7 linked regions of the Homo sapiens genome follow. The protein of the gene in region 5 purifies or fractionates together with the protein of the main gene of each other region. This does not show direct contact. Each region holds a gene or a part of one and is shown on either strand. Other genes may lie near its edges.

Region 1 (3,500 bases), on a different chromosome or scaffold from region 5:
TTTAAGTTTTTAGTACCTTGTATACAAAGGGTATATGAGTATGTATGTATACATGACAGAAGTACTTGGTTGGAGGTCATTTAAATTATCTGCAATAAAAATTCACTTTAAAGGTTACTATAATTCCTTTTAATTCATGCATGCTGACTATACTAAATATAATCCAAAGTCATGTACACTGACTTTACCTGAACTGATTTGAGACTACTACTCTGATAGAAATGCATTTACACTATCAGATAAAATTAAATCTTTCTTTCAGTATAGTGACAAATCAAGGAAAAGTTAAAGTACATAATAAAAGTCTAGACTGTATTCCACTCAAAGCATAGTAGAGGCTGTTTTAAAATTCCATGAATATGGGAAGGAGGAGACAAAAGCTAAATTCCATAATAAATAAAACAAAATTAAGGTATATAATATTTTACCCCTCATATCCATCACATCCTCAAGAAAGTTAACAGATGTTTTCCTGTTTTTGAAAATTGGACAGCAAACAACAATGTAGATTATAAATGTTCCTAGAACAGTGATTTCCAAATTGGGTGGCACACAGTAGGCATTCAATAAATGGCTTACCACACAGATTGTGCTACATTGCATATCTTTGTCATGCACTTAAACTTACTGCCTAACTCTAGGTTAGGACTGATGATCATGTTTTTGTGCCAAAAGCATAGCAGTCTTTGTTTTCGAAACTCTCAGTGACCCATATTTAAGCCAGCTATTGGTTTCTGAAACAAATGTTAAGGGCACAAAGAACAAACAAACACAAAAGCCTTCCAAAGTCATAGGATTTGCTACCCTTTGAATATACTGTTTCTAGTCTCCCTCACCCCTATTTCTGCATGATACCTGGTTCTTGGTTATTCAGTCGGGTTTGATTTAGTTTTCCTTTTTGACCTCTACCTTCCCAGAACTTTCAGTAATACTTCCTTTGTCCTGCTCCTACCCATGATTTCCAAGGCCTGCTTTAACATGGTACCCAGCTCCACTGTTGCAAATAGAACTAAATCAGGCAGCAGTTAGAGTCTATTCATTGTACAACCTTTAGACAAATTCTCTATCATCATTTTTAATTCTAGACTGAAGAGTTATATTTTAAAAAGATTCTATCACAGCAACCATTGTTCCTACTTACAACTCTTTCACCTTGTACCCTTCTCTAGAACCTTCTCCAAATCTATGCCTTTCTGAAATAAAATTGCCATTATTAATCTGGGCAAGCACTGAGTTAAAATCGTCCCAGAATAGTGGTCTGATGGGGTGGTGATTAAGAGCTTAGGTTCTCCAGAGCTGTACTTGAGTTTAATTTCCCATGTGTTTTATACTTAGCTGTGTGACTTTGAACAAGATACTTACCCTTTCTGAGCCTTCGCATATCTTTAAAATTGGGATAATAAAGGTACCTGTCTCACGGGATTGTGGAATTAACTGAAAAAATGCAGATATAACCAATGACTGCAACAAAGTAAGATCTCAGTAAATGTTGGCTACTATTGGTGTTGGTGGTGTGATTAGTATTCCTGTTTAATACAAGGATAGAATGCATTTACTTTTCACTGTGCTTCCCACTAATAATTTTGCTAGTCTTTTTGGTACTCATGGCTTTAGAAGAGTTACAGTGATTCTTCAATATGTATACTGGGTTTCAGTTAACACTAAAACCAGCTTCCCTTAAGCACATTTAGAATATCTTTTCCATTATTTGCATGCATTGAAGCATTCATACCACCTTTTGGGTCCAACAATTGATCTAAAATTATTCTTACAATTTCTCCTGATTAGCTAGATGTTTGGTAAGCTAAAATAGCTTACCATCATCTAACAGACAGTATATTTTGGCTACGAGGTGATTTATAAAATATTATATGATCAGTACCAGGAACATCTGGAGCTGTGGGTGGATGTGAGGAAATGAGAGGATTCAGGATAGTATAGCTTCCTGCAGATTGCTGTTTCCATCTAAGGTAATGTTAGATAGCTTTAAGCCTTTCACTACCATTCATACTAGCAAAAAGGATGAGTCAATTAAACAGAAACTGAGAGTAAAATTTTAAATTAGAACTTTGAGGTTATCATTAAAGATATATCAAGTAGGTATATAGAAATTGTATATAGTTGTTTCTTTCAATATATAACAGGACAATATTTGCAAAGTCTTTTCTAACAGATTCTTTCCTAGTCAGATTTCTTTGCCTACCTTATCTTCCTTCCTATGTAAATCTATCTGTGCATGGATATAATATAAGATCAAAAACTAAATGCAGTAGTTAAAAATTACCAATTTTATAAGATCTGCATGGAGGTGGTTCCTGATTACTCAATGTATACCTATGTTTTGCTTAGAGAAGAGAATCACAAAACCAAATTTATCTTTTATCTTTGAATAAATGTATCTATCTATAGATTTTATAGAAATAGAAAAATGTGAGTTGATTCATTCTGTTGTTACCTGCATCCTCAATTTTAACAACTTTATGCTGCATGAAATGCAGAGTCAAGTTTACAAATTCTATTAGCAATACACCTTCCTGAGTTAAGATGAGTTGGCAAAGTATTTATGTAAACTAATAGATTTATTATACTTACCCACTATGAAAGATTATAAGTACTTAATATCATATATCTATACTTTACTAGTGTGCTATGTTAGAAAGCATGTATCATTAAAATTAAACTTTTATAAAAGACTAAAAGTGGAAAGCAAAGTCAAGTATTTTACATATACTGTTTCTAGGTGTCCTAAGCATCAGTTTCAGTAACACTACCAGAAGCTAAAATAACAATTCAATTGTTGAAGGAAACAAACTCAGATGATTAGAACTGAAAATGACCCTAAAAATGAAAAATCTAAGGTGCTAAGGTGGAGATCCGCATAGATTATGCAACATGCCATAGATCATGTAACTAATTAATGGCCGCAGTAGAACTAGAACAACCTCTACTAACTTCACATCTGAGATTTTTGACAATGTATAACAAAGAGTTGAATTTAATATATGAGAGATTGAAAAGGTAGATATTGTCCCCAAGTTAAAAATCTTTGGATGTAATTACTTCTACTTACTTAATTTTATATTCCTAAGACGACACATTTAAAATAGCATAAAACTGTAAAAACTCGTTAGAAGTAATGAAAACTACAAACAAAATTTATGCTTTATCTTAAATCAAAACCATGGAAAAGGCCATTTTCTTTTGTCTAAAGGAAGCCTGAGATTTACTGAAAATGTGTGTGAGTGCGAGAGAGTGTGTATGTGTGTGTGGTGGTGGTAGGGGTCTTTGTTTTGTTTTGTTTTGTAAATTGTTAGAGATTGTTCTATTAATAGTTTCCTTTTGTAATGGTAATCTGTGCTCCAAAATGAGGGCACACTAAAATGAATTTCTGATAATTTATAAAGCAGTGAAATACAAATACATTTCTAGAAACTTACTAATGACAGTAAGAAAATGGGTACCAAGAGTTTCAAAATTAAAAATCAAAATCTTTTTAATAT
Region 2 (3,500 bases), on a different chromosome or scaffold from region 5:
AGAGCCTTGCCTCCTCTAGAAAGGAGACAAGCACCAAATCAACCTCATTGGTCCTGAGCTGGAACACTGGGACTGCAGCCTCCTCTCTCCACCCTGAAGAATGACTGTGAGCTGATCCAACCATCCACACGGGAAGCCCCTCCCTGCAGTTTAGCGATCCAGGAAGATGCTACCAGTCCCCAAAGCGGGCAGATTGGATGGTCCTGAGGCCCACCCTAGTCAAGTGGCAGGTCCTGTTCTCTTTGTCCGTATAGACGCACAACACAGCTCTACAGACTCCAATCCTAACGAAAATGATCCACCTACATAGTTATCCCGCGCGGACCAGCCGGGGTACAGTTGCATATGAAGCTGTCGCTCCTTCCGGGCCAGCTCGTAGTATTTCGCTTGCTCTTCTCTGGACAGTGCATGCCACTGGAGGGGACGTGGGGTACAGATGAGAAAGACATGAACAAAGAGAAAAGCATGAAAGAACATCACACATTACGCCAAGGTCAGGGGATAAATAATGCTGCCTTTTTGGGTGAGTCCGTCCAGAAATGGTATAATCTGTACATACTGACCGTCGGCTGGGTCCTGGCACTAACAGGAATGTTTAGACAAAACTTGATTTGTTATCTATGTCATTCTGTCATTTGCTCACTCGCTCGGGTAGGGGAAGAGCATGGCTGTGGCTGTTCTGAACGCTGAGTGCAGAATAACTAGTCCTGACTCAGTGAAGGCCATTCAAGGATTCAGAATGTGGCTGAAGGGCAAGAATTCTCCAAAGAAATGGGGACAGAGACATTCTGCCACCTGACCTGCTGCACTCTGGTCCCTCACCACCCGCCCCCCGCTTCTCCCTGAGAAGGGCGTCACCTACCCTCCGCCCAAGGATCTGGTTGATGGCCGCGCTTTCTTTCAACGTGCACTCAGCTACGACCTTTGCTCTCATTTCCTTCATATACAACATGAATGCATTAAGAGGTTTCTTTATGTGGGGCTTCTTCTTTTCTTCTTCCTTTTTGGAGTCCTGATGCTTTCTGGAGATAGACAAAACAGACGCAACCCAATAAACAAGGTCGTGGTCCAACTTCCTCCATGGCAGGGAACGTATCTCCTTGTCTCATAACCCCCAAGCCTAGCAGTTTTGGATTAAAAAGCATGCTTTTAGTTCTTCTGCACCCCGGAAAATGGAACAAAAATAGCTTGGGGAGGGGTTGGGGGAAGAGAGGGATTTTGCAATCACTTCCTCAAGTTTCACAAATATACAATTTTCCCAAGCCAGAGGGGAAAGCACATGGTTGCTGTCTTCACCTCGGCAGGGTTTTCTCCTGCTTGCAGAACAAAGCTCTAAATGTTCAATGATGCGGTTAGGGGGCAGGGAAGTGGTTGCAAATCCCAGTGTATCCAAGTACACACACAAAAAACAGTTCTGTTCTAACCCACGGTGGTACAGTGAGATTCTGCCACTGTGCACTCTCTCTCTCTTTGTAAGGGAGTGAAGAGCCCACACAGGCTGGGTATTGGCTGCAGTCAAACCAAACGAGGCCAACCTTAGGCAGAAAGCCACCACCCAGCAGCTGCAACAGGCTTGCAGAACACTGCGGCTACGAAGAAGGTGAGAAAAACAGCAACACTTACGAACTATGGAGTGAGCCGACATCACTCTGGGACGATTCCTGTTTGACTGTTGGTGTGACTATGGCCGGATGCGGAATGCCCGTCGTGTGTAGCGTATGATGTGGTGGGACCATATGGGGAGGGAACCTAGAAGACAGAAAGCTGTGTAAATCGTCAGAATCAAAATGAATGAATGAGGAGGGATGTGTACACACAATTAAAAAGAAAAAAAAAAACAGCACGTAACACTCACATGAAAGCAACCCAAGGCATATGAAACCTGTCAGCATTAATTAGCGATAAATTAAACATAATGATTCTCATAATGTCATTAAAGCCAATTCATTATTGCTACTGACATAAGACATTATGATTTTTAACATCTTTAGCAAAAGACAAATTCAACTGACGTACTTGGGCGGAAAAGTGGGCTTGGACTACCTGCCAGAAATCGCACGTCCACTTGTTTTTTGAGGCATTATTAGTGGCATCTAAGAAGACAATTTCCTAAGTCCTAATCAGCTCTAAAATGAAAGGTGAAATCTTTTGTTGTATATTGACAGCTAAATAAAATATTAACGTGGTTGAAATATACATACATTTTTGACAATGCTGTGCAAGCCTCATTAGGCCTCATCCTGTTGATGAAGTGCAATACAATTTTTATTTTTCTTTTGTGCTGTGTCCCATCATTTGACAGGAATGGGAGAGAGTGAGGCAGGAAGACAGGGAAAATTCAAATAGTTCCTATTTGGTTCATATCATAAGTCATGGACATTTTAAATAAGTTTCTATCCCTTTATGGAAAGATGCAAAAAAAAAAAGGAAAGGAAAGGTGCACACACACACAATAAACCTTTGATTCTGATTTGTATGCCCTTTCTCCTCTAAAATTTAGGATTCCTATATCACTTTTACTTCATATGTTGTCTAGGCATCATTAAGAAGTCTTCTAAATGATTATCAAAATTATAAATGAAAGATACAGTTTGTGTTTTCTCCTCTCATGCTGCTCATTTTTTGGACAGTTCTCTAAGGCACATTTTAGGACCTGAATTGGCATTTCCCAACCAAGTACATTAGCCAGGACAGAAAGAGCTAATCTCAACCTACTCTTGGCCCATCTGCAGACTGACAACTGGATCAAACACCTTTCTCATTTTCAATTTTGCGTGGTGTCACCATGATTTGTACTGGGTTGGAAGACTCACCCCTCTTCAAGCAACATATCCTACTATAGAAAAAATAGTGAGGGACAGAAAGGGCAGAATCCCAAAAGTAAACAATATGGCAGCCTCCTGCTCCAACCTGGCAAGGTGATTCAAGTGAGCAGATGGGAAGCTGTTCAGATGAAGATCATGGCAACTGTTGCTTTCTTAATAAGTCCAAACCAAAGCAGTCCAATGTACCATCCAAGGAATAACAATCTGCTCTTTACAAAGCCAATTCTGGTGGGAACTAGAGGGCCTAATGAGGATCGATCACGACAATTCTTCCAAAATGATTCTGTATGTATTTACAAAGTTTTTTCCAGAAGCGGGCTAGAGATAGTTTCCATTCAGCCAAAATAAGGTAACAAACATTAATTTGAAAAATAATAAAATGATTAAAGTACTAACTGAATCTACACAGATCAACAGAGGAAGGAAAGTTAATGCTGATTCTTGAAGAAGGCCCAAGCCACAGTAGACATTTCACTCAAAAATCCCACGCTGACGTGGCCTTTCCTGCCACTGCCTTTACAAATTTAAGCCAGTAGTGAAGACTGCATGACATGATTTTAAAAATAACAACAATACAAGTCCTTCGAATGTATCAAAAAAAGAGAGAGAGAAGGAAAATGTAAGGAAACAAACATGCTAACAACCTTCATCTTCATCCCCTTCCTCTCAAAATAA
Region 3 (3,500 bases), on a different chromosome or scaffold from region 5:
TGCATAGAACTAAAAAGTGTTTTACAATTGGAAGAAAAAAGTTAAGTGCCACCTGAAGGAAAGACTGGCTTCCTACTGTGTATACAGGGACATCATCTTGTAATATTCACTCCTAAGAAAGTTCTACTTATTTGTTAAGCTTAATGCTACTGGTAAGTAGCTGTCACTCAGCACAAGAAAAGCTTTTAATTCAGGCCCTTAAATCCATTTTGTAGTGGTCTCAATTTTTTCCTAAGTGTATTAACTTCTCTATGTTGTATACCTTACAGCTCAGAATTTTCAACAGATGCTATTGGGCATAACAGTGTATAGGTTTCAAGCATGAAACCAAATCTCACAAGAGATTTAAAAGCACTTGAATTTTCTTTCCCAGGTAACCACAACATTTGTTCATTGTATAAATGACTAAGGAAAAAATTGCACCTAACAAGACTCTTATTATACTAAAAGTCAAGCTTATATTTAAAGATGCTGGCTTGTTGTACAGAGGGTATTCTCATTCCCCACAGGGAATAAAATTAGGTCCCCTGGAGAGTAGAATAATTCCCAGAAAGAAAGCACTGGATTATTTCTCTCTAATTTCACCTATTGGCTTTTTAACCAAGTTCACCCTTCCGCATTAAAATATTAAGTCTTTGTAAATGCCTTAAAGATAAAAAGGCCTTTACAGAGTTGAGTGTTTTCTGCAGGTGAGATTTTACATTCTGAATTCCCTCCTCTCAAATTACTTTACAAAGGGGATTAACTGCTCTCTTTATTCAAATACGTTAAGATCAAGCTTGCGAAAAGAGTCCCCTAAGAATTTTCATACTTCTGGGTACGGAAGTCTATAAAGTTAATCTCTGAAACAACATATCAAGCTTACAGGTACAATGTTGAGAGAAGAGTGCCAATTCAGCTCATTTTACCTTCCATTTTCCCTTTTGAACTTTTGACACAATCATGATTATATCTGATTCACTCTAACAGAAAGGGGAGGGGTGAGGGGGAAAAGTACTTTCCCTTCTATGATTAGCTAATAGTTTGATAGTTTATATACTTAAATTTAGAGGACCATGATTAGCTTAAGAAAGTTCCTTTAGTTTTCTTAACTGGTTATGATTTCTCTTTTTGCATGAGGACTGCTTTAGAGTTTAAAGTCACATCAAGAAATTCAAACATCACTTGCCCATTACATATGCAGTGGTTAACTTAGCCTGTTAAACGTCTTCCTCATCATTACAAGGATTTGTAATTCAATGTAACTGATTAAAATAACTAAGTGCAAAATGTGGGTTTTTTTTTTTTGTTGTTGTTGTTGTTTAAGGTACTGAACTATCACTGCTGAAACTCCTGTGATTGGTCACTTTCAATTTATTTAACTTTCATAAAATGATTGAAGGGCGGAGAGGTTTTTTACCTACAGCTTCAGGAGGACTAAACTATTATTTACTGATCATCTATAAAAGGGCACCATGCTAGATAAGGGAGAATCATTATTTATAATGATGAATAAGATGCAGACCTGGCCCTTATGAAACATACACCAATCAAGGTTAGAAAATAAGCATATAAAAAGTTGAATTTCCATGGTTAAAAATACTACAAACTGGCTGGGCATGATGGCTCAAGCCTGTAATCCCTGTACTTTGGAAGGCTGAGGTGGGAGGATCACAGGAGTTTGAGACCAGGCTGGGCAACATGGTGAGACCCCCATCTCTACAAAAAATAAAAAATTAGCTGGGCAGGCTGGGCGTGGTGGCTCATGCCTGTAATCCCAGCACTTTGGGAGGCCAAGGCGGGTGGATCATCTGAGGTCAGGAGTTCGCGACCAGCCTGGACAACATGGTGAAACCCTGTCTCTACTAAAAACACAAAAATTAGCCAGGCATGGTGGCGGGTACCTGTAATCCCAGCTACTCGGGATGCTGAGGCAGAACTGCTTGAACCCGGGAAGCGGAGACTGCAGTGAACCAAGATTGCGCCACTGCACTCCAGCCTGGGCAACAAGAGCGAAACTCTGTTTAAAAAAAAAAAAATTAGCTGGGTATGGTGGCACATGCCTGTAGTGGGAAGATAAGGTGTCAGGATGGCTTCAGCCTTCGAGGCTGAGGCTGCATGAGCTGTGATCACATCACTCACTGTATTTCAGCCTGGGTGACAGAGGGAGACGGTCTCAAAAAAAAGGGGGGCATTTTGGTGAATACATTATCCATTACTCTATTAAATACACATAACTTTTGAATGAACAATTTCAATGGGAATTAATCCTACAAATATTTCCACACATACAAAAATATTTTAGCATTGTAATAGACACAAAAAAAAACCCCAAAAAAGACCAGAAACAATAAATCTTACATTACAAGCTTATATTACACAGCTTTTTACAAAATATAACTCAGCCATAGGTTAATCAGAAAAGCTGTCTAGAATGTATGACATGTAAAAAGTTTCAGGCTGGGTGCGGTGGCTTATGCCTATAATCCCAGCACTTTGGGAGGCTGAGGCGGGTGGATCACTTGAGGTCAGGAGTTCAAGACCAGCCTGGCCAATACAGTGAAACCCCATCTCTACTAAAAATACAAACATTAGCCGGGTGAGGTGGCACGAGCCTGTAATTCCTGCTACTCCGGAGGCTATGGCAGGATAATCGCTTGAACCCGGGAGGCGGAGGTTGCAGTGAGGTGAGATCATGCCACTGCACTCCAGCCTGGGCGACAGAGCGAGACTCCACCTCAAAAAAAAAAAAAAAAAAAAAGTTTCAGAACAGTATATTATATAGCATAATACCATTTGTATAATATGAAAAGCACGGAAGAATTGACAATTGATTTGGCCCGGATTCATTCATTCTTTCCCCTCCTTTTCTTTCCTTTCCTCAGTCTCTCTGCTTCCCCTCCCTCTCCCCCTCCCTCCCTCCCCTTCCTTCCTTTAGAGACAGGGTCTCCCTAAGTTGCTCAGGCTGGTCTTGAACTCCTGGGCTCAAGGGATCCTTCCACCTCAGCCTCCCAAAGTGCTGGAATATGAGGTGTGAGCCACTGCGTACGGCCAGTCAGGACTCTTTTTCGTTTTGTTTGTTTTTGAGACAGAGTTTCGCTCTTGTCGCCCATGCTAGGGTAAAATGGCGCGAGTGCAATGGCCTCAGCCAGGACTCTTTTAACACAGAGCTAGCCATACTATAAGACAGCTGAAAATGGTGAAAATAGTGTGAGCTAAATGCAGAGAAGAAACAAGTACAGTGTATATTTAGTATATAATTCTTGAATATTCTAAAGCATAGGGAATGATGGGAAATAAAACTGAAAAGTTTAAATTGCACTCTAAATATGGGGCTAAGGTGACTACCTGTGAGCATCAGGAGTTAATAAATATGTTTGAATAGAAAAATGATAGCTATGAACAGAAAAAATAGAACAGAGAAGTTACTACAGAAGTAGAAGCCACAGATGAGCTGCATGTAGCATTAAGGTGTAGAATTAAGAACAGATGGCTCTAGTTGATTCCTAGGTTTATCTGCT
Region 4 (3,500 bases), about 34 Mb from region 5:
CAGCCCCTGACCTTGACCCTTGACCCTTGACCCTGGGTGCTGCAATTCAGACACACTTTGCCCCCAGGGGGATCTCATTAACTTTGAGAAGAGGAGGAAGGTGAGTGGAGGCTACAGTGGGTGTGGTGGTGCCTGAGGGTGGGGGTGGGGCAGGGGTAGGGTCTTAGAGGCTCGTCCTCCAGGAGTGGGAGATCCTGGCCCGCATCCAGCAGCTGCAGAGGCGCTGTCAGAGCTACACCCTGAGCCCCCACCCGCCCATCCTGGCTGCCCTGCATGCCCAGAACCAGCTCACCGAGGAGCAGAGGTGACCACCCTGTAGCCTGTCCCAGCCCCACCCCAGCTGAGCCTGGGTCACCAACTGGATTCCACCCACTCCATACACACCTCCAGCTCCTCCCAAGACCCCCTCTTGAGCCCTGATCCCCCACTACAACCTGTGACCTTGCAGTATCTCCAGTCGAATCAAATAGACTGGGCCTGGTGGTTTACTCGTGTAATCCCAGCACTTGGGAGGCCAAGGTGGGTGGATCACTTGAGCCCAGGATTTCGAGACCAGCCTGGGCAACATGGCGAAACCCCATATCTACAAAAAAATACAAAAATTAGCTGAACGTGGCTGGGCACGGTGGCTCACACCTGTAATCCCAGCACTTTGGGAGGCCGAGGCGGGTGAATCACATGAGGTAAGGAGTTTGAGACCAGCCTGGCTAACAGAGTGAAACCCCGTCTCTACTAAAAATACAAAAAAAAAATTAGCCAGGTGTAGTGGCAGGCGCCTGTAGTCCCAGCTACTTGGGAGGCTGAGGCAGGAGAATGGCGTGAACCCGGGAGGCAGAGCTTGCAGGGAGCCGAGATGGTGCCACTGCACTCCAGCCTGGGCAACAGAGCGAGACTCCGTCTCAAAAAAAAAAAAAAAAAATTAGCTGAATGTGGTGTTGAGTGCCGTTGGTCCCAACTACTTGGGAGGCTGAGGTGGGAGGATTGCTGGAGCCTGGGAGGCAGAGGTTGGAGTGAGCCAAAATCACGCCACTGCAGTTCCAGTCTAGGTGACAGAGTGAGACCCTGTCTCAAAAAAAAAAAAAAAAAAATAGTCACAATTGACCTCTGACCTCAATTTCAACCCCATCTGATTTTCTGACCTCAACTTTAGCATTCAGCTGGCCATTCAACTCAACTGTCCCATCTGTTGACTTCCCCATCTTTGGTCCTATCTGACCCATGACCTTATTCATGACCCCTCATCTGACTCTCTGACCCCAACCCTTGACCCTCAGTTCTGAGTAACTGACTCCAACTTTTATGTTTGACTGTCCAGCTTGACTATGACAACTGTGTCCTTTCTTTCTATATAACTGTGACCCTAACCATTGACCCCAATGGTGACCTGACCCCAGTCTGACCCTGACTTTATTTTATTTATTTATTTATTTATTTATTTATTTATTTATTTATTTATTTTTGAGACAGAGTCTGGCTCTGTTTCCCAGGCTGGAGTGCAGTGGAGTGATCTCGGCTCACTGTAGCCCCCGCCTCCCAGGTTCAAGCAATTCTACTGCCTCAGCCTCCCCGGTAGCCGCAATTACAGGCGCGAGCTACCACACCTGGCTAATTTTTTTTGTATTTTTAGTAGAGACGGGGTTTCACTATATTGGCCAGGCTGGTTTCGAACTCTTGACCCGAAGCAATCCTCTCGCCTCAGCCTCCCAAAGTGCTAGGATTACAGGCGTGAGCCACTGCACCCAGTCCTGACCCTGACTTTAATCCTGACCCAATTTGATTCCTTAGTGCCACCCTGTGAATCTCTTTGTGACCTCCTGACCAGCCATCCTGTCCCATCTCTGATAAGACCTTGATGCTCAATGACCCTCATTTACCACCCTGACCCTGGCATGTGGGGTGCCACCTCTGGCTGCTCCCCCTTACACCCCAAACCCACCTCCCAACTGATTCCAACTCTTATCTCTCCATCCCCTGTATTTCCTGCCCCCACCACCTCATCCACATATTGACCCCTCAGCTACCGGCTCTCCCGGGTCATTGAGCCACCAGCTGCCTCCTGCCCCAGCTCCCCACGCATCCGACGGCGGATCAGCCTCACCAAGCGTCTCAGTGCGTGAGTCTCGGGGTGTGTGTAGGGGCGGTGATGTGGGCAGATATCAGCAAGGGCTGCTCCTGCCTTAGCCTCATCCCCTGTCCCCATCCTTAGGAAGCTTGCCCGAGAGAAAAGCTCATCACCTAGTGGGAGTCCCGGGGACCCCTCATCCCCCACCTCCAGGTGAGCATTCTGCTTGGTGATGGGACTGGGGATCATGGGATCAGGAGTCAGCACAGCCACCCCACCTCAGCCTCTGCATCTCCCCCAGTGTGTCCCCAGGGTCACCCCCCTCAAGTCCTAGAAGCAGAGATGCTCCTGCTGGCAGTCCCCCGGCCTCTCCAGGGCCCCAGGGCCCCAGCACCAAGGTACCAAGACGGCTTGTGTGTGCATGCGGGCCTGCGGGCACCCAGGCTCTGTGTGTGTGCACGTGTGTGTGCATGCACATGTGTACACACAGGATTGTGGGGCCAGGAGTGTATACAGGAGGCACACTGAGCGCCCGGGGTATCCATCCAGGGGATTGCATGCATCTGCACGGCCCTGTTTGGGTGATCACTCATAAATCCGACTCGTGCTCAGATTTGGACCTGTGTAACTGCTTGCCCATGGGTCATCTAGGGTGCAATCACATCACACCCCTTTTTATTTGAAACAGGGTCTTCTTGCTCTGTCACCCAGGCTGAAGTGCAGCGGTGCAATCTCAGCTCACCGCAACTTCCACCCCTCCCCCAGGCTCAAGCAATCCTTCCACCTCAGCCTCCCAAGTAGCTAGGACCACAGGTGTGCACCACCATGCCCTGCTATTTTTTTTATTTAGTAGAGATGAGGTTTCGCCATGTTGCCCAGGTGGGTTTCGAACTCCTGAGCTCAAACAATGCACTCACCTCGGCCTCCCAAAGTGCTGGGATTACAGGTGTGAGCCACCGCACCCAGCCTACACTTTTTTGAGGACATGTATGTCCCTAAGAATCTGCATACCATGGCAGACACGGTGGCTATTGCCTGTGATCCCGGCACTTTGGGAAGCCAAAGTGGGAGGATTGCTTGAGGCCGGGAGTTCAAGACCAGCCTGGGCAACATAGTGAGACCCTATTTCTATTAAAAGTCAAAAAAATTAGCTGGGTGTAGTCCCAGCTACTCAGCAGGCTGAGGTGGAAGGATCGCTTGAGTTTGAGGCTGCAGTGAGCTACGATCATGCCACGGCACTCTAGCCTGCATGATAGAGCGAGATCCTGTTTATGAAGAAAAAGAGACTGGGCACGGTGGCTCACGCCTGTAATCCCAGCACTCTGGGAGGCCGAGGTGGGCGGATCACGAGGTCAAGAGATCGAGACCATCCTGGCCAACGTGGTGAAACCCTGTCTCTACTGAAAATAGAAAAATTAGCTGGGTATGGTCGCGCACA
Region 5 (3,500 bases):
CCCAGGAGGCAGAGGTTGCAGTGAGCCCAGCTATTGCACCACTGCACTCCAGCCTGGGCGACAGAGAGAGACTGTCTCAAAAAAAAAAAAAAAAAAAAAAAAAAGAGCCCAAGCAGAGTCAGCGTGTGGCCCAGAATTGGCTTCCAGGTCATATATTCCTTGTAGCTTACCCAGAGCAATGACAGGAGAAAGGCTTGGGGGACAGGTGGGACCTGGGCACATCTTGCATGCCAGCCTGAGAGTGGGCAGTGGGTGGAGAGTCCCACCAGTGTCCTGAGCAGGGAGAGGATGGGGTTCCGCATCCCCAGACTGGAACTTGTGGGTCTGTGCTGAGACTGGTGGAGGACAAGGGGTGGTCCCCACTATTGTCGAGACCCTGGACACAAGCAGGATGAGGTGGTGGGTGAGGGTGTAGATGAGGTCACCGTGGAACACTGTTGTGCCTGAGCTGGACACGGCTCATAAAGGGGGAGCCAGCCATCCCTCCCAGAGCTCACCTCCCGGGAAGTTAGCAAGCGGGTGTCTAGTGAGGGAGAGGTGACGTGGGCCAGGCAGGGCTCATGATGGCAGGACTGCCCTTAGGCTGAGTGTATCTAGAGCGCCATCTCTGTAGCCGGAGGGAGGCCGGAATGCCGCTCTGGGACATTTTGGAGGGAGAGTAGCAGGAGAGGAGAGTCGAGCCTGTCACCCTGGGCCTTGCAGGAAGGAGGACTGTGGATCCGGACCCAGGGTGGGGTGCGGTTGGGGTCCCTGGAGCCTCACAGTCCTCCTCCCGCCCTGCTGCATCCCCAGGAGCCGCTCCCACTCAGGGGACCGCTACAGGCGGGGCGGCCGGGGCCTCAGGCACCACAGCAGTAGCCGCAGCCGCAGCAGCTGGTCCCTCAGCCCGTCCCGCAGTCGCAGCCTGACTCGCAGCCGCAGCCATAGCCCCAGCCCCAGCCAGAGCCGCAGCCGCAGCCGCAGCCGCAGCCAGAGCCCCTCGCCATCACCCGCAAGAGAGAAGCTGACCAGGCCGGCCGCGTCCCCTGCTGTGGGCGAGAAGCTGAAAAAGTGAGCGGGGCGGGTCTGGAGGAAGAGGGCTGCCAATCTCGGGTGGGGAGGGTGAACATCACTGTTTTCTTTTTGAGGGGAACTTAGCCCTACCCTGGGAGGTCTGGGGGGTGGTGTATGGCCCTGGCCTGGGAGGGTGGATTTCAGGGGGACACAGCCCTGGCCTGGGGGGTCTGAGGAGGACACACCAAATCCTGGAGGATCTGCACAATTAGAACCTTGTCCTGGGTGAGGGTCAGAGGGGGACAGGTCCCTGTCTTACAGGTTCTGTGGGGTCTGAGAGGGACATGGTTGCACCCTGGGGCATCTGAGGCCCATGCCTTGGCTACCTGGTCTGAGGGCAGTGCTGAGGCTGGGGTCAGAGGTGGCAGCTGCCCTTTCCCCCTCCCAACCATGTCCTCTGGCCCTGCCCCCACCCAGGACCGAACCTGCCGCTGGTAAAGAGACAGGAGCTGCCAAAGTCAGTAAGAATTTGGAACTCGCCCGTCTAATTCCCGTCAGCAGCAGTGCCCAAGAGCTGGGCCCGGTGGGCCTGCAGGGGGGCCCGGGTGGGCTGGGAGATCCAGCCCCAGGGACAGGGAGGGGAGGGGAAGGGTCTGCCCCTGTGAGAACCATGTCCCTCTCCCCTCCTCACTGTACACTGGGGCTCCACCTGTCACTGAACCTCTGGGAGCCTCAGGGCTGTCCACAGCCTGCCCCTCCTCCCCACGTCGTTCTCCCCCCCCCACCCCCCCCCCGCACAAAGCCCCAGGCTTTTGGCTGAGGTGGGTTGTGGGAGCTCTGGGACACCCACCCCCTCTCCCGCCTCTTCTCCCCCCTCCCCAGCCCAAGCTGACGCCTCAGGAGAAGCTGAAACTGAGGATGCAGAAGGCGCTGAACAGGCAGTGTATGTTCTGCCCTGTCCCTCCAGGGTTTCACAGCTCTTCTTTCCCTTGGCAGTGGGAGCAAGGAGACTCAGCACCACTTTGGGAGGCCTGGCCCTTCCCTAGAGAGGCCACGCAGGCACGGAGGTGCTCTGGGGAGGAATGGGTTTGCATCAGCTCCGCTGCCGCTATGCTGGGGCCTCTGCAGTCAGGTTGACCTGTCTGAGCTCAGCTTCCTCATTTTAGAGAGTGGGGCTCTTAGCGGGCACGGTGGCTCACACCTGTAATCCCAGCACTTTGGGAGGCCGAGGTGGGCGGATCACGAGGTCAGGAGATCGAGACCATTAACACGGTGAAACCCCGTCTCTCTAAAACTACAAAAAATTAGCCAGGCATGTTGGTGGGCGCCTGTAGTCCCAGCTACTCAGGAGGCTGAGGCAGGAGATGGCGCGAACCCGGGGGGCGGAGCCTGCAGTGAGCCAAGATCACGCCACTGCACTCCAGCCTGGGCGACAGAGCGAGACTCTGTCTCAAAAAAAAAAAAAAAGAAAAAAGAGAGTGGGGCTCTTAAGGGAACCCCTCAGCCACCCTGTTCTTTCTCTCTACAGTCAAGGCGGATAAGAAGGCGGCACAAGAAAAGATGATCCAGCAGGAGCATGAGCGGCAGGTGAAGTGGGAAAGGGAGGGCTGGGGTGACGGGTGGGTGCTGGCCTGGCCACGTCCTCATAGCCCTGTCTGCTGCAGGAGCGGGAAGACGAGCTTCGAGCCATGGCCCGCAAGATCCGCATGAAGTAAGACCTTGCCCCTCCCTGTCCCATGGCCACACCTCCTGGCCTGCCTGGCCTTCCCACCATGGGCTGCTGGCTCAAGCCCTGCCCAGCTCCCTGTGGGTGGATGAAAGGCAGAGATCCCTGCCTGGCCCTCGGGGCTGTGCCCAGCTGCCTCTCTTGCTCCTCTCCCTGAATTTCCTCCCACCATTTCGACCTGCCTCCCGCCACCGCGACCTCCTCCCAGCTCTTCCAGCCTCCAAGTGCCAGTCACCTTTGCTGTTTTTTTGGCCTGGCAAGCTGTTCCTGATACCCCTTCCCCACTCACCCACCGCCATGGGTCTTTCTCCTGTCCCAGCCTCAGTTTGCTTATCTCCTAAATGGAGATACAGTCACTGTCCCACCTCACAGGCTGTTGGGAGGATTTGACAAGATCAAGGCCAGGCACGGAGGAGGCACCCAGTAGACGTAGCCATTGGGTTGCCAAGCCTGGCCACTGTGACGGAGACCATTTCAACACTCACTGTGTGCAGGTGCCCCAGTGCGGCAGGAAATGATGGGACTATCCTGCCTCCCTCTGTTCCCCAGGCTTTCCTAGGAAGGGGCTGGGATTCCAGTCAGCCCCGCCAGCTGGGGTCCCTCTGAACCTGGGGCTCCCTTTCCAAGCGGGGATTGGTGGCAGTACCGGCCCCCTTGGTTTACTGTCTTCCTCGGAGTAGGGTGTTGGAAGCACCTGCCCTCCCTGAGTTCAGTGTGTCCAGTGTTCCCGGCCAGATGCTCATGCCATGCCTTCGCAGGGAGCGGGAACGCCGAGAGAAGG
Region 6 (3,500 bases), on a different chromosome or scaffold from region 5:
CTGAAAACAGACAGCAATTTATGTTATGTTTTTATTGCTAAGGGCACAAACAAAATCTTTTAGCATGGAAAATAAATGTCAACAGTTAAGATGATGATGGAACTGTTTACAGACCAAAGTATTTTATACCTTCATTTTCAGTAATTTTGACAAGAACAAAATATAGTAAAGCTAAAATAAGAGAGAAAAGAAAATTAACCACCACCACAAAAATGGCACTCAAAAACTGCCTGAATGAAGGTAATTAATACAGTACAGGCAAATCTCCAAACAAGTGGTTTAGTTCTGCTCTTCATTTTAACAAATGGGTCTACTATAGCTACTAAAAACATCATTCTATCAGAATCAAGTTCTTTGCAAAGAAGATAAGGAAATAAACCAAAATAGAGCACACAATAAAGTCAAGACTCAAGTTCATTGTTTAAGACAAACAAAAAATAATGTAGCTTATTTTCCTCACCACTTTCTCAGGAGACAATGAATTCATCCACTTTTCTATCAAGGTTTCCATGTAACTGCCTGAGAGCTGTTTATTCTCATTTTGCTGTTTCAATTTTATCAGCCGTGAAGCATATCTTTTCTGCCATTCTGCTAGTTCTTCCTGGGAATGTGCTGAAGTACACTGGGCACCATACCTACAGATTCCTTGTTCTAAAAATCTAAGTAGAATAGGAAAGACTGTTTTATCATATACTTTGTTGAACCATTTAAAAATAAACTCCCAGCATTTGCCCTCTGATTCTTCAATAAAAACAAAACTTCATGTGCTGAAAGGCCATATTTATCGTACTGTCTTGTACAAAGGAGGGAGAAGAGGTTTAGAGAACATTTACAACAGTTAACCAAAACATCAGCTCCCCATATTATTCACTGACTTTCTCTGGAATTAGGGGATCCTAAGGCATAGGTATTCACGTCGGCCCTCCAAAAGAGGCACTGAAAAGTAGCTTCCTTGGTCATATAAGGACTCTTACTAGACAATTCCTCTTAGTGTAACTGGGTTTTGTTTTTGATTTTTTGTTTTTTGTTTTTGAGACGGAGTCTCACTCCGTTGCCCAGGCTGGAGTGCAGTGGCGTAATCTCGACTCACTGCAACCTCTGCCTCCTGGTTTCAAGCAATTCTCTGCCTCAGCCTCCCGGGTAGCTGGGATTACAGGCGCCCGCCACCACGCCTGGCTAGTTTTTGTATTTTTAGTAGAGACGGGGTTTCATCATCTTGGCCAGGCTGGTCTTGAACTCCTGACTTGGTGATCCACCCGCCTCGGCCTCCCAAAGTGCTGGGATTATAGGCGTGAGCCACCACGCCCAGCCAGAGTAGGATTTTTTTAAGCAATACTGACATCAAGTGGATTTGCTGCTCACACACAGGTATACCCTACTTCCCAAAATGATAAGGACCTTAAAAAAATTTTCTATATATGGGAATTTCATTCTGAAAAAACAGTTAACATATGACTAATTACCATTTTAAGGCTTTTACTTTTCACCTTTAAACATAGTGATTTTACTCTTTTCTACATTACTATTACCTATATTTCAGTGAAAATATATTAACTTGCTTGAAGCTTTAAATAAATTTAGAATCAAAGTTTTATATTACAGAGTCACAAATTTATTCAACAGTCATGTTAAATTCAAGGGAATAAATTATAAATGTTCATTTTAAAGGACAGAGAGTCAATGATTTCTCGACGTTTACAACTCGGAAAATTCAACTGACAATTCAGTGACCAAAAACAGATAAAAATAAAATACTTTGATAATTTTTTTTTTTGGAGATAGTCTCGCTCTGTTGCCCAGGCTAGAGCGCAGTGGCACGATCTCGGCTCACTGCAGCCTCTGCCTCCCGGGTTCAAGGGATGCTCCTGCCTCAGCCTTCAGAGTAGCTGGGATTACAGGTGCCTGCCACCACAATGCCCGGCTAGTTTTTGTATTTTTAGTAGAGATGGGGTTGCATGTTGGCCAGGCTGGTCTCGAACTCCTGACCTCAAGTGATCCACCTGCCTTGGCCTCCCAAAGAGCTGGGATTACAGGCATGAGTCACCATGCCCGGCCCTGATCATTAACTTTTTTTTTTTTTTTTTGAGATGGCATTAACTTTTTAAAAAAGTTTTAAATACCCTGCAAAATTATAGGCAAAGCCAGTTTTTAAATAAAAATAATAAAAACATTGATAAAAGATCTTCTGAGAAAAAATGAAAATTAAACTAGAAATATAATTAAATGGCCGGGCACAGTGGCTCACGCCTGTAATCCCAGCACTTTGGGAGGCCAAGGCAGGCGCATCACCTGAGGTCGGGAGTTCAAGACCAGCCTGACCAACATGCAGAAACCCTGTCTCTACTAAAAATAGAAAATTAGCCGGGGTGGTGGCACATGCCTATAATCCCAGCTACTTGGGAGGCTGAGGCAGGAGAATCGCTTGAACCCGGGAGGCGGAGGTTGCAGTAAGCCGAGATCATGCCATTGCACTCCAGCCTGGGCAACAAGAGCAAAACTCTGTCTCAAAAATAAAAAAAAATACATAATTAAATGTAAATATAATATAAAACTATAAATAGCAAAAGAGAGATGTTATATTACAGACCATTTTTCAATTGGAAAAAATATGGATAGTAAGAAATAAGAAATGAACCACAGCACAATATGAATTTTCAAATGGTTCACCGTATTTGAAAAAATGAGTATATTTAAAACTTTTCCTGATGGTACAACAAAGTACTTGAACTTAAAATTATACTATTTATTAAATTCTCTTACACTTTTGAAGACACATTTAAAATCATTTTATGTTTCTTTTCAATATGTCTTAATGGGCCAAATCTTTGTCTTTCTATTGCTTGGCTTTAAATTATTTCCCTAAAAAGTGAAAGTGTTATATTCTTATCTGTACTTCAAATCTTCTCATATTTCCTTTTCATAGGATTGTGTTCTGTCTCTTCTACAACATAACACCACTAGGATTTTCAATACTTACACATTAGTTTCCTGACTATTCAATAATCAAAACCATGTAGCAAATTTCCTTCGCTATCAAAAGTAATCTAAAGAGGCGGTGAGAATTTATATCTAAAAATCCCACTAGTTACAAGTTCTTACAAAAAGAACCGAAGAGTTTACCATTTTAACTGTAACTTTAATCATTCCTTCCACATTAATAAATAATTATTAAATTTTGAAAGGTTAGCCCTTCATTATGAATTATTCATAAATTCTACATAAGAATTACATGAAGATAATATTTTTCAGAAAGGTTAAAACAATTTAACATTTCTTTATCTATTTTATGCTCTACTTTTTACATAAAGTATTGTCAACTTCAATCACCACAACCTAAGTAAATTTCACATTAACAAATGGCCATGGCCAGGTGTGGTGGCTCACATCTGTAATCCCAGCATTTTGGGAGGCCAAGGCAGGAGGATTGCTTGAGCTCAGGAGTTCAAAACCAGCCTGAGCAACATGGTGAAACCCCATCTCTACAAAAAAAATACAAAAAT
Region 7 (3,500 bases), on a different chromosome or scaffold from region 5:
GGCCTGGAGGAATCCCGGGACCGGCCCCGACCCCTTCCTACTGAGCCAGCTGTGCGGCCCAAGGAGCCTGGGACCAAGCGAAAGGGCTTGGGTGAGGGGGTCCCCTCATCACAGCGGGGTCCCCGCCGCCTCTCAGCTGAAGGGGGAGATAAAGCTCTACATAAGATGGGTCCAGGTGGGGGCAAAGCCAAGGCACTGGGTGGGGCTGGCAGTGGGAGCAAGGGCTCAGCAGGTGGCGGAAGCAAGCGACGGCTGAGCAGCGAAGACAGCTCCCTGGAGCCAGACCTGGCCGAGATGAGCCTGGATGACAGCAGCCTGGCCCTGGGCGCAGAGGCCAGCACCTTCGGGGGATTCCCTGAGAGCCCTCCACCCTGTCCTCTCCACGGTGGCTCCCGAGGCCCTTCCACTTTCCTTCCTGAGCCCCCAGATACTTATGAAGAAGATGGTGGTGTGTACTTCTCGGAAGGGCCTGAGCCTCCCACAGCCTCTGTTGGCCCCCCTGGCCTACTGCCTGGGGATGTCTGTACCCAGGACGACCTCCCTTCTACAGATGAGAGTGGCAATGGGCTTCCCAAAACCAAAGAGGCAGCCCCTGCAGTTGGAGAGGAGGATGATGACTACCAGGCGTACTATCTGAATGCCCAGGATGGGGCTGGGGGCGAGGAAGAGAAGGCCGAGGGCGGGGCTGGGGAGGAGCACGACCTGTTTGCTGGGCTGAAGCCACTGGAACAGGAGAGTCGCATGGAGGTGAGGGGATGGAAGGAGGGAGGGCTGGGTGCTCCTTAGCCACAACTGGGAGGGGCTATCTAGCTCTAGTTGGGAGTGTCAGGACCATCAGCAGGATTGTGAGAACCCTGTTGCAGGCGCCGAACTGGTCTCCCTGCTTTCAGTCTACTCACTTTTCTGCTTCCACGAGATTTTCCTGAAATGTGATGGTGTCACTCTGCTGCTTAAAACCCTTCAATGGGTTCCTGTTGCCCTTATGATAAAATGAAAGTGGTTGGCATGACCTGTGAGGGTCCACTTGATCTGGTCTTTGCCTGCTTTGCCAGCCTCACTTGGCTGCTCTGTCCTTTGCACTCCAGTCAGCTGAATCACTCATGTATCTGCCATGCTCTCTCTCTTGCCTCCAGGATTTTGGACAGATTGACCTTTCTGCCTGGAATGCTCTTCCCCATTAGCCCGTGTTTCTCCTTCAGGTCTCAGGGATCTTAAAGATCACTTCCTCTAGGGAGTCTCTCTGATACTGTCCCTGTGCCCCAAGATATCCCACCTGCTTCCCCTTGACCTTTCCCTGTAATAGCTGGCATCACGGTGGCATGTGTGTTTATGTGTCTGTCTTTCTAACCAGAGCTCCTATGGAGCGGCACAGGGCCTGGCATGTAGCAAGTGTTCAAGGAATGTTGGCTGCATGAGTGAGCATGATGTCCTGCTCCTGGAAGTTGGGACTTTAACCTGTCTGGTCCCATGTCCTCCTTCCAGGTACTGTTTGCCTGTGCTGAGGCCCTGCATGCGCATGGCTATAGCAGTGAGGCCTCCCGTCTCACTGTGGAGCTTGCCCAGGATCTGCTAGCCAACCCACCCGACCTCAAGGTAGAGCCGCCCCCTGCCAAGGTGAGAGACCCCCTTCCTCTACCTTCCCCTCCCCCACTTACCCCCAACCTGCTCCCATGCCCCACCCCAAGTGAGAGCATCCTTCTACCTCCACCAAGGTAAGTCAGAATCATCTGCCTGTCTCCTGTGTTTCTTCCCTTTCTAGGGCAAGAAGAACAAGGTATCCACGAGCCGTCAGACCTGGGTGGCTACCAACACCCTGAGCAAGGCGGCCTTCCTGTTGACAGTGCTAAGTGAGCGTCCAGAGCACCACAACCTGGCCTTCCGAGTTGGCATGTTTGCCTTGGAGCTACAGAGGCCTCCAGCTTCTACCAAGGCCTTGGAGGTCAGAGGCTCCATCTCAGCCTTGTATTTCAGTCTCTTTAGAGCCTTGCACCTTGATCTCTATTGACACACCAGAGGTCTGAGCTCCTTCCTGTGCCCTCAGGTGAAGCTGGCATACCAGGAGTCTGAGGTGGCTGCCCTGCTCAAGAAGATCCCTCTGGGTCCAAGTGAGATGAGTACCATGCGGTGCCGGGCAGAGGAACTTCGGGAGGGGACACTCTGTGACTATCGGCCTGTGTTGCCTCTCATGCTGGCCAGTTTCATCTTTGACGTTCTCTGTGCTCCAGGTATGATGCCTGACCCTACAGTAAGTGGGGAACTGGGGTAGGGGTAGCTTTCTCTAAGAAAGACCAAGAGCCCCAAGTTTCTGAATCACCTTTAGGACCCATCAGGCAGCTTCATGGGTAGGTCTGTGATGATGAGGATTTTGGGTTCCCCTGTATTTTTTCCCATGCATGATACTTCTGTCTGCCTGACTTACCCCAACTTTTATACAGTGGTTTCTCCCACAGGTTCCCGGCCCCCAAGTCGCAACTGGAACAGCGAGACACCTGGGGATGAGGAGCTTGGATTTGAAGCAGCAGTTGCTGCCTTGGGTGAGTCTTGAGCATATCAACGAGCTAAGCCTGGTTCAGGTCTTGAAGGACATGAGACCTGTGCCTTGTTGTGAAGGGCTGTATGGTAATGGGAAGGTCAGGATGACATGTGTGAGCCAACTAGTGCCTGTAAGACAGGAATTCAGGGCAAAAATGTGTGCTATATGGCTGGGCGTGGTGGCCCATGCTTGTAATCGCAGCGCTTTGGGAGGCTGAAGCAGGAGGATTGTTTGAGCTCAGGAGTTCATGACCAGCCTGGGCAACCTAGCAAGACCTCATCTCTACTTAAAAAAAAAAAAAAAAAAAAAAAAAAAATTAGCCAGGTGTGGTGGCACATGCCTTGTGCTGCCAGCTACTCCAGAGGCTGAAGTGGGAGAATTGCTTTAGCCTGGAGATTGAGGCTGCAGTGAACTGTGATTGCACCACTGCCCTCTAGCCTGGGCAACAGAGTGAAACCTTGTCTCAAACAAAGAAAAAAAAAATTGTGTGCTATGGGTATTGGGTATTGTAAGGGCAGCAAAACAAAAATCTAGAGAAAGGCCTAAGGGAAGTGGTAGAATATGGAATGTGGGTTAAAAGATCAGTAGGTCCTAAACCAGCGAACACCATGAGTAAATACACAACGCAATCAAGTTTTCATGAGAATGAGGAGGCCAGCTTCCCTAAAATGATAAGTACATGCTGGGTAAGCAGATTGGACCTGGTTATGAAGGTTTTGAAAAGCACACCAGAGCTTAGGCTGGATATAATAGTCAACGAAGACTTCTATAGGTGATGTGGGTTGGACCAAGGGAACCCCTTACTTCATATGCTGATGGCTTGGGAACCCTGGCCTCTTACCTTTGCTGTCTTGGGAATTATGACTACTCTCAATCCCCATAAGGTCCTCTTTCTCGCAGGCATGAAGACAACAGTGAGCGAGGCAGAACATCCCCTCTTATGTGAAGGCACACGTCGGGAGAAGGG

Evidence for each region.
Region 1: the proteins of CLASRP (region 5) and ZBTB20 purify together in Homo sapiens (affinity purification with mass spectrometry; one large-scale study listed by BioGRID and IntAct). This does not show direct contact.
Region 2: the proteins of CLASRP (region 5) and TCF7L2 purify together in Homo sapiens (affinity purification with mass spectrometry; one large-scale study listed by BioGRID and IntAct). This does not show direct contact.
Region 3: the proteins of CLASRP (region 5) and SNX3 purify together in Homo sapiens (affinity purification with mass spectrometry; one large-scale study listed by BioGRID and IntAct). This does not show direct contact.
Region 4: the proteins of CLASRP (region 5) and RGL3 purify together in Homo sapiens (affinity purification with mass spectrometry; one large-scale study listed by BioGRID and IntAct). This does not show direct contact.
Region 6: the proteins of CLASRP (region 5) and HELZ purify together in Homo sapiens (affinity purification with mass spectrometry; 2 studies listed by BioGRID and IntAct, with this or other methods). This does not show direct contact.
Region 7: the proteins of CLASRP (region 5) and ZSWIM8 purify together in Homo sapiens (affinity purification with mass spectrometry; one large-scale study listed by BioGRID and IntAct). This does not show direct contact.

The regions. Positions count from the first base shown.
Region 1 is NC_000003.12:115,137,289-115,140,788, forward strand, and holds part of ZBTB20 (zinc finger and BTB domain-containing protein 20), read right to left. Parts: intron 1-3,500. UniProt on the Homo sapiens protein: May be a transcription factor that may be involved in hematopoiesis, oncogenesis, and immune responses. Plays a role in postnatal myogenesis, may be involved in the regulation of satellite cells self-renewal.
Region 2 is NC_000010.11:113,149,247-113,152,746, reverse strand, and holds part of TCF7L2 (transcription factor 7-like 2), read right to left. Parts: intron 1,765-3,500; coding exon of another isoform or gene 1,750-1,764; coding exon 1,624-1,749; intron 1,023-1,623; coding exon 863-1,022; intron 415-862; coding exon 307-414; intron 1-306. UniProt on the Homo sapiens protein: Participates in the Wnt signaling pathway and modulates MYC expression by binding to its promoter in a sequence-specific manner. Acts as a repressor in the absence of CTNNB1, and as activator in its presence.
Region 3 is NC_000006.12:108,226,541-108,230,040, forward strand, and holds part of SNX3 (sorting nexin-3), read right to left. Parts: intron 1-3,500. UniProt on the Homo sapiens protein: Phosphoinositide-binding protein required for multivesicular body formation. Specifically binds phosphatidylinositol 3-phosphate (PtdIns(P3)).
Region 4 is NC_000019.10:11,398,815-11,402,314, reverse strand, and holds part of RGL3 (ral guanine nucleotide dissociation stimulator-like 3), read left to right. Parts: intron 1-67; coding exon 68-100; intron 101-182; coding exon 183-304; intron 305-2,017; coding exon 2,018-2,113; intron 2,114-2,206; coding exon 2,207-2,275; intron 2,276-2,345; coding exon of another isoform or gene 2,346-2,363; coding exon 2,364-2,460; intron 2,461-3,500.
Region 5 is NC_000019.10:45,066,545-45,070,044, forward strand, and holds part of CLASRP (CLK4-associating serine/arginine rich protein), read left to right. Parts: intron 1-792; coding exon 793-1,050; intron 1,051-1,470; coding exon 1,471-1,510; coding exon of another isoform or gene 1,511-1,514; intron 1,515-1,875; coding exon 1,876-1,936; intron 1,937-2,521; coding exon 2,522-2,580; intron 2,581-2,657; coding exon 2,658-2,704; exon of another isoform or gene 2,705-2,710; intron 2,711-3,399; coding exon of another isoform or gene 3,400-3,477; coding exon 3,478-3,500. UniProt on the Homo sapiens protein: Probably functions as an alternative splicing regulator. May regulate the mRNA splicing of genes such as CLK1. May act by regulating members of the CLK kinase family.
Region 6 is NC_000017.11:67,189,697-67,193,196, forward strand, and holds part of HELZ (probable helicase with zinc finger domain), read right to left. Parts: intron 660-3,500; coding exon 461-659; intron 1-460. UniProt on the Homo sapiens protein: May act as a helicase that plays a role in RNA metabolism in multiple tissues and organs within the developing embryo.
Region 7 is NC_000010.11:73,792,106-73,795,605, forward strand, and holds part of ZSWIM8 (zinc finger SWIM domain-containing protein 8), read left to right. Parts: coding exon 1-747; intron 748-1,482; coding exon 1,483-1,614; intron 1,615-1,759; coding exon 1,760-1,939; intron 1,940-2,041; coding exon 2,042-2,225; intron 2,226-2,435; coding exon 2,436-2,534; intron 2,535-3,433; coding exon 3,434-3,500. UniProt on the Homo sapiens protein: Substrate recognition component of a SCF-like E3 ubiquitin-protein ligase complex that promotes target-directed microRNA degradation (TDMD), a process that mediates degradation of microRNAs (miRNAs).